2 separate regions of the Homo sapiens genome follow, and region 1 is linked to region 2. The links come from fine-mapping of genetic effects on gene expression. Tissue or cell type: visceral fat. Region 2 holds a variant in brackets; the other region holds the start of a gene. All regions are shown on one strand. Distances are between the middles of the regions.

Region 1 (5,149 bases), 290 kb before region 2:
TGCCCATAATCCCAACACTTTGGGAGGCCGAGGTGGGTGGATCACCTGAGGTCAGGAGTTCGAGACCAGCCTGGCAAACATGGTGGAACCCCATCGCTACTAAAAATACAAAAAAATTAGCCGGTGTGGTGGCGGGTGCCTGTAATCTCAGATGTTTGGGAGGTTGAGGCAGGAGAATCTTTTGAACCTGGGAGGCGGAGGTTGCAGTGAGCCGAGATCACGCCATTGCACTCCAGCCTGGGCAACAAAAGTGAAACTCTGCCTCAAAAAAAAAAAAAAAAAAAAAGTTAAAGAAATTAGGAAAGTCATTAATCAGAATAATAACGATGACGAGATGATGACAACTATGGCAATAATATCTAACGTTAATTAACAATAAATAGGTAGCTGATCTTCCCACTTCAGGCAGAAGGCCTCCAGTACAAAAGATGGGAAGGAATCTACTCCCCAAAGCCTGGGAGAAATAGATCTTCAGGACTCTGAGTTTCTCCATTTTGACTCTAGACTTGACAGCTGCCTTCTACTCATGTCATGGTTTTTGCAAAGAAACTTGACAGTTAATATTTAGTGGGAAAGAAAAATCACTGGACTGAGTAGGGTTCTAGTATGGCCAGCTCAGTTTTATCTGTGACATCTGGCAGGGTCAGTTTTCTAGTCCTGAGTTTCCAGATAAGACCTTTTCCTGAGCTTCTCAAACTTTAACATGCATCTCGCTCACCTTGGGATCTTGTTGAAATGCAGATTTCTGGGTCCTATCTGCAAAAATGCTAAATCAGAAGGCCTTCGGTAGGGCTCAAGAATGAGCCTTTCTACCTGGGTGATGCCAATGTTGCTGCTTTGTGAACCACAGTTTGAGTAGTGTTGCACTGTACTCAGTCCCTCTCCCAAAACAGCCCCTAATAAACAGAAATATATACAAGAAAAACTTGACAGAAAGGCACTAAACTATAGTTGTTATCTTTATACCCTAAGGTCATGGGGAATTTACATTTTTTAAATGTATTTCTGTGTTTTCCATGATTATGTGTTACCTCTATATTATTTGAAACAAATAAAACTAATAATTGAGAAAACTATTTTTAAAAACTCTTTTCTTTTTTTGAGACAGAGTCTTGCTCAGTTGCCGAGGCTGGAGTGCACCGGTGTGATCTCAGCTTACTGCAGCCTCGCCTCCTGGGTTCAAGCGATTCTCCTGCCCCAGCTTCCCAAACTCCTGGGATTACAGGTGTTGGCCACCACGCCTGGCTAATTTTTGTATTTTTAGTAGAGATGGGGTTTCGCCATGTTGGCCAGACTGGTCTCAAACTCCTGGCCTCAAGTGATCTGCCCGCCTCAGACTCCCAAAGTGCTGGGATTACAGGCGTCAGCCACTGTGCCCAGCCACTATTTTTTAAAAGTCATAGAATAGCCCAGACCTTGAGCAAAGTCCCCACAGTGAAGTCCCAACCTATTTTCACATGATACTAGCCAGCTGCCTATGGCTCATGCAGAACATACCAAAGAAGACTCAGGTCTAGACTCAGACTGCCTCGGTTTCAATGCTAGCTCTGCCTCCTACTAGCTAGGTGGCTATGAGCAAACAAGTTATGTTCTTATGTCTCAGTCTCCTCGGAAAAAGAGTATCACTTCACAGAGCCACTGTATAGTGGAAAGGTGTTCATTTGTATAAACCCCTTAGAATGGAACTTAGCAACTAACGCTAAATTATAATCACTTCTCATGCCCAAATACATGACCCCACACATTCTCTGATTTATGTGAATAAAACAAGAATAACAACAAGTCTTACTCACATGGGGTTCTGCTGCCTCCTCCTCTGTGCAGTGCTTTTTGAGAAGTCAGGGCTGGGGAAGAAAAACAGGCTATGAAGTAACCAGGATTGTGTCTTCATCCCGGATACATCACAGTGGCATCTCCCAGGACCAGTTAGAAGCAACCCTCTCCTTCCTCAAAAGAGGTCAGGGACAATCCAGCTTCATGGACTCACAGAATTTCGCCACAGAACGGGAGTTTCTAGGAAAATTACAGTAGTATTGGTAATTCACGTGCCAGGCAGTTTTACACTTTTTGTATTACCTCGTTTTCTCTCAAAACATTCTATTAGGAAGTTTTTGCTTTTATTTTCCTTCAGAACAGCAAACGAAGGCACGGGGATTAACTAACTCGCTCAATGTGATACTGTATGAAGTGGTAGGGCTGGCTCATTAGGTGGGGGAGTCACAATGAGGGAGCGAACAGCCCGAGAGACCTTCAAACCCGACGAAGCATCACCCCAGCCGCCCGAAGCCAGTACGCCCCCAATTCTAACAAGCTCCGCCCAGGGAAACGCAAAACAGCATCCTGGCCCCTCAAACCTCCGCTCTTAGCCGCTACTCCTTTTTTTCCCCAAACAAAAGACCGCTAGCTGCTGACCACAAGTGCATTTCGGGGAAGTTTGAAAGGTTCCTGAGAAGCTGACCTGAATCACCAAAGCCAGGGAAAAGATGGCTGCTACGTCGTCTTCCTGGGCGGAAGTGCCTGCGAGTATCAGGAGGACCTGGACTACGCTTCCCAGAATTCCACAGCACTGCCTTCCTCGAGCCGGAAGTGCCTACAACTACCTAGAACGATTGGACCTACAGTTCCCAGGATTCCGCAGGGGAAACATTTACAGCCTTACTGCAGCTGAGCTATGCGCGACTACACGGAACTCCGGACTACATATCACAGAATGCTGGAGTTGGGGGAAAAACAGAACAGTACCGCCCTCCTGGACTACACTTCCGGAATGTCCAAGCCTTCTGATGTGGAAGTGTCCAACTACCTTGAGCTCCTGGTTTTCATTTCCCAGAATCCCTCACTTCTCTTTAGGTATTATTATGGTCTGAGTGTTTATGGCCCCCACCAAATTCGTATGTTTAAATCCTAACTCCCAAGAAGATATTAGGAGGTGGAACCTATGGGACGTGATCAGATCAAGAGGGCAATGCCCTCATGAATAGGATTAATGCTCTCTTATAAGTGGCCTGAGGGAGCTCCTTTGCCTCTTTAGTTATGTGAGGACACAGCCAGAAGGACCATGTATGACTTAGAAAGCGGGACCTCACCAGACACTGAATCTGCTGGCACCCGATCTGGGGCTTATGTGCCAGCAATTTCACTCCTAAGTAAATACCCAGGAGAACTGAAAGATATCCACACAAAAACTTGTTCTAAAAAAGTTCATAGCAGCATTAGTCATAATAGTCAAAAAGTGGAGAAGACCCAATGTCCATCAGCTGATGAGTGGATAAACAAAATGTGGTCTAGCCATATAATGCAATATTATTTAGTAATGTGAATGAACAAAATATTGATTCATGTTATAACATAGATGAACTCTGAAGACATTATGTCCAATGAAAGAAGCCAGACACAAGATACCATATATGGTATGATTCCATTTATATCAAATGTGCAGAATAGGCAAGTCCATAGAGACAGAAAGTAAATTAGTTGTCTCCAAGGCTGGGGAGATGTAGTTGGGAATGGGGAGTGACTGTCAATATGTAGGGTTTTTTTTTTCTTACTTTTTTAGAGACAGCGTCTTGTTATGTTTCCCAGAATGGAGTACAGTGGCTATTCACAGGCATGATCATAGCACACTGCAGCCTTAAATTCTTGGGCTCAAGTGATCCTCCCGCCTCAGCCCCCTGGGTAGTTGAGACTACAGGCATGCACCACCACACCCAGCTCATGTAGGGGATTTCTTTTGGGAGCAGATGAAAGAGTTCTAGGATTAGATAGTGGTAATCATTACATAATATTGTGGATCTTTTCAAAGATAGAAAAATGTTATGTGACAATATCCCCTAAAGCGTTAAAATGTAGCTAAACTCAAAGCTAAGACAGGGAAATCCCAACGGCCAAAGATGAACAGGCAAGTTAGGCCCACAGATGAAAAAACTGAATGATCCCACAAGGGCTGGGCATACTAGGTAAGAGCTAAGGAATTAATCTTGTGTGTGAATGGGAGTTAGAGTAGCCATGCATTTTGGGAGACATGAACTATACAATATTACAAATGAAACAGTTCTCTCCTCTTGACTGTGAACAAACAACAACCAACCAAAAACAAAGCCAGATAGCTCCCAGCTTCTACAGCTGTCTTGTGACTAACCTGAAAACTCTGGTCATGAGGAGGGTAGATGTAGACTGTACCTACAGTCTTATCAGTTATGGGGCAGAGGGGCAAGAAATTATTTGGTTTAGTCTACTGGTTTTGGTTACAAATTACCTTGAAGGAAGATGACCTAATGTGGTATCTGGTGATACAAAGAAAGAAAAAGAAAGAAAAGAATATAGGTACTGGATTTCTGAAGCCCTTTGTTCAGAAAAGAGTTAACATAGGCCTGAGACTGTTGTACTTAAAAGGCCTGCTTGCAACATGCTATAGTTTGATGGTGTTCCCTTGTTAAAACTTAATCCCTTCTTGCTTTTTCATCACTTCCACCATATGAGGACATAGCATCTGTCTCCTCCAGAGGATGCAGCAACTGGATGCCATATTGGAAGCAGACAGCAGCAGCCCTCACCAGATGTTAAACCTGCCAGCATCTTGACCTTGGACTTCCCAGCCTCAAGCACTATGACAGATAAATTTATATTGTTTATAAATTACCTAATCTGTGGTATTCTGTTATAGCAGCGCAAGATATAAGGTTAGCCCTTGACTGGTATCTGGGAACTTGAATTTCAGGAGGATTTCCACAATTCTCTGATGAGAGTGGCTCACCATGCCCCGGCTATTTGTATAATGTGATTTATGCTGAATTCCTTCTGGGAATCTAGAATTTTGGCCCAAGCTGGCCTATGTGACCAGTTCCAAAACAAAACACAACGTAGTGCCTAGGGCACTAAGTCTCCATTGAGCTTACTGGGTAGACATTTCACATGTTTCAATGCTGAAAAAACAGTACATCATGAATGATTCTACAGGGAGTGGATTATTGGAAGCCTGTACCTGATTTCTTCTGGACTTCATCCCATGCACATTTTCCCTTTGCTCAACTGACTTGGTATCTTTTACTACAATAAATCATAGTGACTATGATAACATAGGGTGTCTTGAGTCCTCCTAGTGAATTACAAGAATGTGAAGGTGGTATTATCAATCCCCAGCATACCATGC
Region 2 (5,149 bases):
TTTGGATTTTTCTCTAATATTACTAAGAAAATTTTGTGTGCTCCAACAGGATTCCTTAAGATTGTGTGGGCACTCTACTTAAGACATGCTAATTTATTTACTCTTATCTAACCATGTCATCATCTTGTAACTCTAGACTACTTCTTTTTACATATTGCCCCTTTATTGCAATTTAATGTTCCATCTTGAAAAGTCTTCTTTACTTTTACAAATAATACACAGGTTTGTCATTTCAGGTGCCATTGACATTCAGCGATGTTGCCATAGACTTCTCTCAGGAGGAGTGGGAATATTTAAACTCGGATCAGAGGGATTTGTACAGAGATGTGATGTTGGAGAATTATACTAACTTGGTCTCATTGGGTAAGAATATCTGCACAAAATGATGTACAATATGCTCTCTAGAATATCAGCCTTCTCTGTTGTATATTTTATGGTCTATGCCAAGAAACCAGCTACATTTCTGCTCCATATTCTCAAAGTTTGTTAGGTGGAAATGGGCATATTTGAAGTTTGTTAGGTGGAATGGGCACCCCCATTCAGCACCTGAATCTTCACTATTCTTCACTTGCCTTTATGCCTGCCTCTGCCCTGTCCTATAATTACTTCTTTTTCTAAATGACTAGAGGTTTGAATTCTGGTATTTTTCTGCAAAGACACTATCAGCAAAAACAAATTTTAAATTATATGTGTGTTCAGAATGTCTGTAAATACTTTAATTGCTAATCTTCCTACATAAAAAACCATGGTTTTCTCTTTACCACAAAAGAGCCTCCATAATTTTTATAGTAGTAGAATGAATTAAGATTATTCTCTTTTTTACTGTTATTTTTGTAGTTCTAGCAGTTGGCCTGTTGGCTTCCAGTGATCTGATAGATTCCATGCAGAAGGGGCAGTCTTTGTTCAGTTTTTGGAAGATAGGTGACCATTCTCTCCTCCCATCTGGGACTTTAATTACACCTATGTTAGACCTTTTGAGCATATCCCACAACTTTTTCATGTCCTTATCTGCTTTTCTCCTCTCTTTCCCCTCTATTTTTCATATGATGGAGTTTGAATGTTTCCTGTTGACCTGTATTCCAGCTCACTTATTCTGTTTTCTAAAGAGGGGTTTTTCATGTCAGATATTGTCTTTTTCAGTTCCAGAAATTCAATTTAATTCTCTTTTATAACTTCCAAATACTTGTTGAAATCTTCATTCTTTTATTTGCTTTCCTTTTATTACTAAATTTTCATCTGTTTTCTTGGAACATTTTAATCATAGTTAATTTTTTAATTCTTTTATGCCTCATTTTTTGTATCATCTGGGGGTCTGCTTCTTTATTGTTTCTTTCTTTTAATCTTGTTATTTGTCATTTGTTAATGCATCTTCAAGTTACTAGTAGTTGTGATTGTATGCTGGGCATTGCATATAAAATAACTGAAGAGGTTTCAGATGATGCTATCTTCCACCAGAGGGTATTTATGTTTTCCTCTGTTAGTCTGATAGAATGCAGGCTGATGACAGTAATACAACCAGGAATTAAATGGGTCACTGCTGGTTTTCAGTTTGATAATGCTCAGCTACCTCTTTGTAAACGCTGTTCTTTTAACTCCTGCTGTACTTAGAATCAGGGAGTTTTTTCAGGGGAAAAGTAGTTGTAGAGCCTTAGGGCCAACTTACCACTCCTGGCTGGTGGAAACAGGAACTATCCCCTAACTACCCTTGGTGACTTTCAGGTATTGTTCTGCCTACCCCTATATGGTGGTGCTTTCCTTTGCCTCATTAGTTTGCTCACATGTAAATTCATATCAGTACTCAGCCAGAGCCTCCAGGGTAGTTCCATCAGAGTGAACAGGCAACCTACAAAATGGGAGAAAATTTTCGCAACCTACTCATCTGACAAAGGGCTAATATCCAGAATCTACAATGAACTCAAACAAATTTACAAGAAAAAAACAAACAACCCCATCAAAAAGTGGGCGAAGGACATGAACAGACACTTCTCAAAAGAAGACATTTATGCAGCCAAAACCACATGAAAAAATGCTCACCATCACTGGCCATCAGAGAAATGCAAATCAAAACCACAATGAGATACCATCTCACACCAGTTAGAATGGCAATCATTAAAAAGTCAGGAAACAACAGGTGCTGGAGAGGATGTGGAGAAATAGGAACACTTTTACACTGTTGGTGGGACTGTAAACTAGTTCAACCATTGTGGAAGTCAGTGTGGCGATTCCTCAGGGATCTAGAACTAGAAATACCATTTGACCCAGCCATCCCATTACTGGGTATATACCCAAAGGACTATAAATCATGCTGCTATAAAGACACATGCACACGTATGTTTATTGCGGCATTATTCACAATAGCAAAGACTTGGAACCAACCCAAATGTCCAACAATGATAGACTGGATTAAGAAAATGTGGCACATATACACCATGGAATACTATGCAGCCATAAAAATGATGAGTTCATGTCCTTTGTAGGGACATGGATGAAATTGGAAACCATCATTCTCAGTAAACCAT[C/T]GCAAGAACAAAAAACCAAACACCGCATATTCTCAGTCATAGGTGGGAATTGAACAATGAGATCACATGGACACAGGAAGGGGAACATCACACTCTGGGGACTGTTGTGGGGTGGGGGGAGGGGGGAGGGATAGCATTGGGAGATATACCTAATGCTAGATGACGAGTTAGTGGGTGCAGCACACCAGCATGGCACATGTATACGTATGTAACTAACCTGCACAATGTGCACATGTACCCTAAAACTTAAAGTATAATAATAAAAAATAAATAAATAAATAAATAAAAATAAAGTAAAAGGGGAAATCTGATCCCTCTTAATGTTTCATAACTAAAAGCACAAGTTATTTTCTGTTATCTTTAAAAGCTTCTTTGCATTTTAGTACAAGAGGTTCCAGATTCGCCTTGTATCTTCCCTCCCTGAACTAGGAATTAGCTATTTCTCCAAGGCACCCTAGTTCACATTAATGGGAAATAGTATATAGAGACCGAAGCCTGGCCAACAGGGAGCTAACTAATTGTGACCAGCTGTTTGTGGGGAAAAATATTTTAAATTTTTTTTCTATTTTTTTCATGGAAATTGGTCTGTTTAGATTTTCCATCTCTTCTGGAGTCTATTTGTTGTTATTGTTTTACTTTCATTTTGAAATAATTTTAGAGTTATAGACAAGTTACAAATGTGGTACCACAGGTTCCTATAATGATAACATCTTACATAATCATGGTACATTTATGCAAACTAGCAAGTTAACATTGTTAACAAAACTATAGGCAAACTATTAGCAAAACTATAGATTTTATTCAGTGTACCAGTTTTTCCACTGTCCTTTTTTCTATTCCGTGATTCAATCCAGGATATCACATTGCATTTAGCCATCATGTGTTTTAGTTTCCTCCTACCTGTGACAGTTTCTTTGTCTTTCCTTGTCCTTTCTGGCCTTGATACTTTTTGAAGAGTACTAGTCAGGTATTTTGAAAAGTGCCGGACAATTTGGGTTTGTTGAATTTTTTATGATTAAACTGGGATTATCGGCTTTGGGGAAGAATACCAGAGAAGTAGCTTTCTCATCATATTGTATCAGAAATACATGATATCAGCATGATTTATTGCTGAGGTATTAACCTTATAAATTTGTTTAAGGTGATGTCCGTCATTTTTCTTCACTGTAAAGTTATTATTTTTCCCTTTTCATATTCTGTTTGCTAGAAGCCAGCCAGTAAGTCTAGCTGGTGTCACTTTTGATAAATTTTATTTTCAGGAAGATTCATCATTTCATGTACATTTGAAATATATTAGCACAGTTGTATGATTTTTTTAACATTCTTTATTTCTTTATTGATGGTCATTTCCCCCTTGTCATTATATTTGGATTTTCCCTCCTATCTTTTATTCCTTAGGTATAAAGGAAATAATGGTTTGTATGTGTTAATTCTACTGTTTTATTTAAATTTTGCTTGTATTATATTTTTCTTTTCTGCAGTCCATCATTCTTTTCCTAATGTCTCCCTAATTTTTATTTATATTTATTTATTTATTTTTGAGACAGAATCTCACTCTGTCGCCCAGGCTAGAGTACAGTGGCGCAATCTCAGCTCACTGCAACCTCTGCCTCCTGGGTTCAAATGATTCTTGTGCCTCAGCTTCCCAAGGAGCTAGGACTATAGGTGTGTGCCACCACACCTGGCTAATTTTTGTAATTTTAGATTTCCTATTGTTGGCCAGGTTGGTCTTGAACTCTTGGCCTCAAACAATCTGCCTGCTTCGGCCTCCCAAAGTGCTGGGATTACAGGCATGAGCCATTGAGCCTGGCTGTTTTCCCTAATTTTTAAATGAAATGCTTCATTTATTCATTTTAATTCTTTTATTTTTAATTAGATGTAAGCATGTTAATCTTTGAGTTTGCCTTGGTGCATTATAACTGAAAGCCATAGATTCTGATATGTAGTATCTCCATTATCACTGTCTTCAAGAAATTCTACAGTTTCAGTTTGTATTTTGTCTTTGACCTAAGAGTAGTTGTTGAGTACTTTCTGTTTATAAATAGGAAGTGTTTTGGCTGTTTGATATTGCTACTTATCCTTTATTGCATTGGCTCAGAGGATAACATCTGTATTATTTTGACTTTTTAAATTTATACTTTTTTCACAGAATTCCACTTGTTTTCAATACTTGACCCATTTAGCATATTAGATTTCAAAGGCTGCTCCCTCACACAGATTATCAATCTTCAGCCTACGTCCAATATATTCTTTGTTGCAAACTACTAGGCACTCAGTTTCCTAGACTCTTGCCCCATTTTTTACTTTATTTTTCCCAATATCCCCAGGTTTATTTGCTTTGACTTTGATAAGCCTTTCAATATATTAATTCGTGCAATTCCTGAAAAATTACTGAGATGCATTTCTGTAGAATTCAAGAATGATCCACCTTGGCTTTAAATGAATAGAAGGTAGAATTTGGGAAAGGCATTGAAGAAACACAACAGATTGAAAATGTGTAGAATGAAAAGAAGTAAAACCTTCAACCTTACAGGCATTATTTGTAGATTTAAAAAAAAAATTATTTAAAACATTACAGTAAAAATTAATGCAACACGTGATTACTTTGATTGAGATAGAAACAGAAAAGC

The links. PIP is the estimated chance that this variant, and not a neighbour inherited with it, causes the effect.
Region 1: it holds the start of ZNF226, and the variant in region 2 is fine-mapped to the expression of ZNF226 in visceral fat (GTEx, PIP above 0.99).

What each region holds. Positions count from the first base shown.
Region 1 is chr19:44,162,452-44,167,600 of GRCh38, reverse strand. ZNF226 (zinc finger protein 226) reads right to left here and starts at 2,501. Exons shown (of 6, transcript NM_001032373.2): 1 at 2,459-2,501; 2 at 1,794-1,844. RefSeq lists enhancers at 2,480-2,599, 2,660-2,809.
Region 2 is chr19:43,875,224-43,880,372 of GRCh38, reverse strand. ZNF404 (zinc finger protein 404) reads left to right here. Exons shown (of 3, transcript NM_001033719.3): 2 at 237-363. Among named protein-coding and RNA genes, the nearest start is that of ZNF404, 6.2 kb to the left of the region's middle. The variant C/T (reference allele first, on the strand shown) is at 2,520.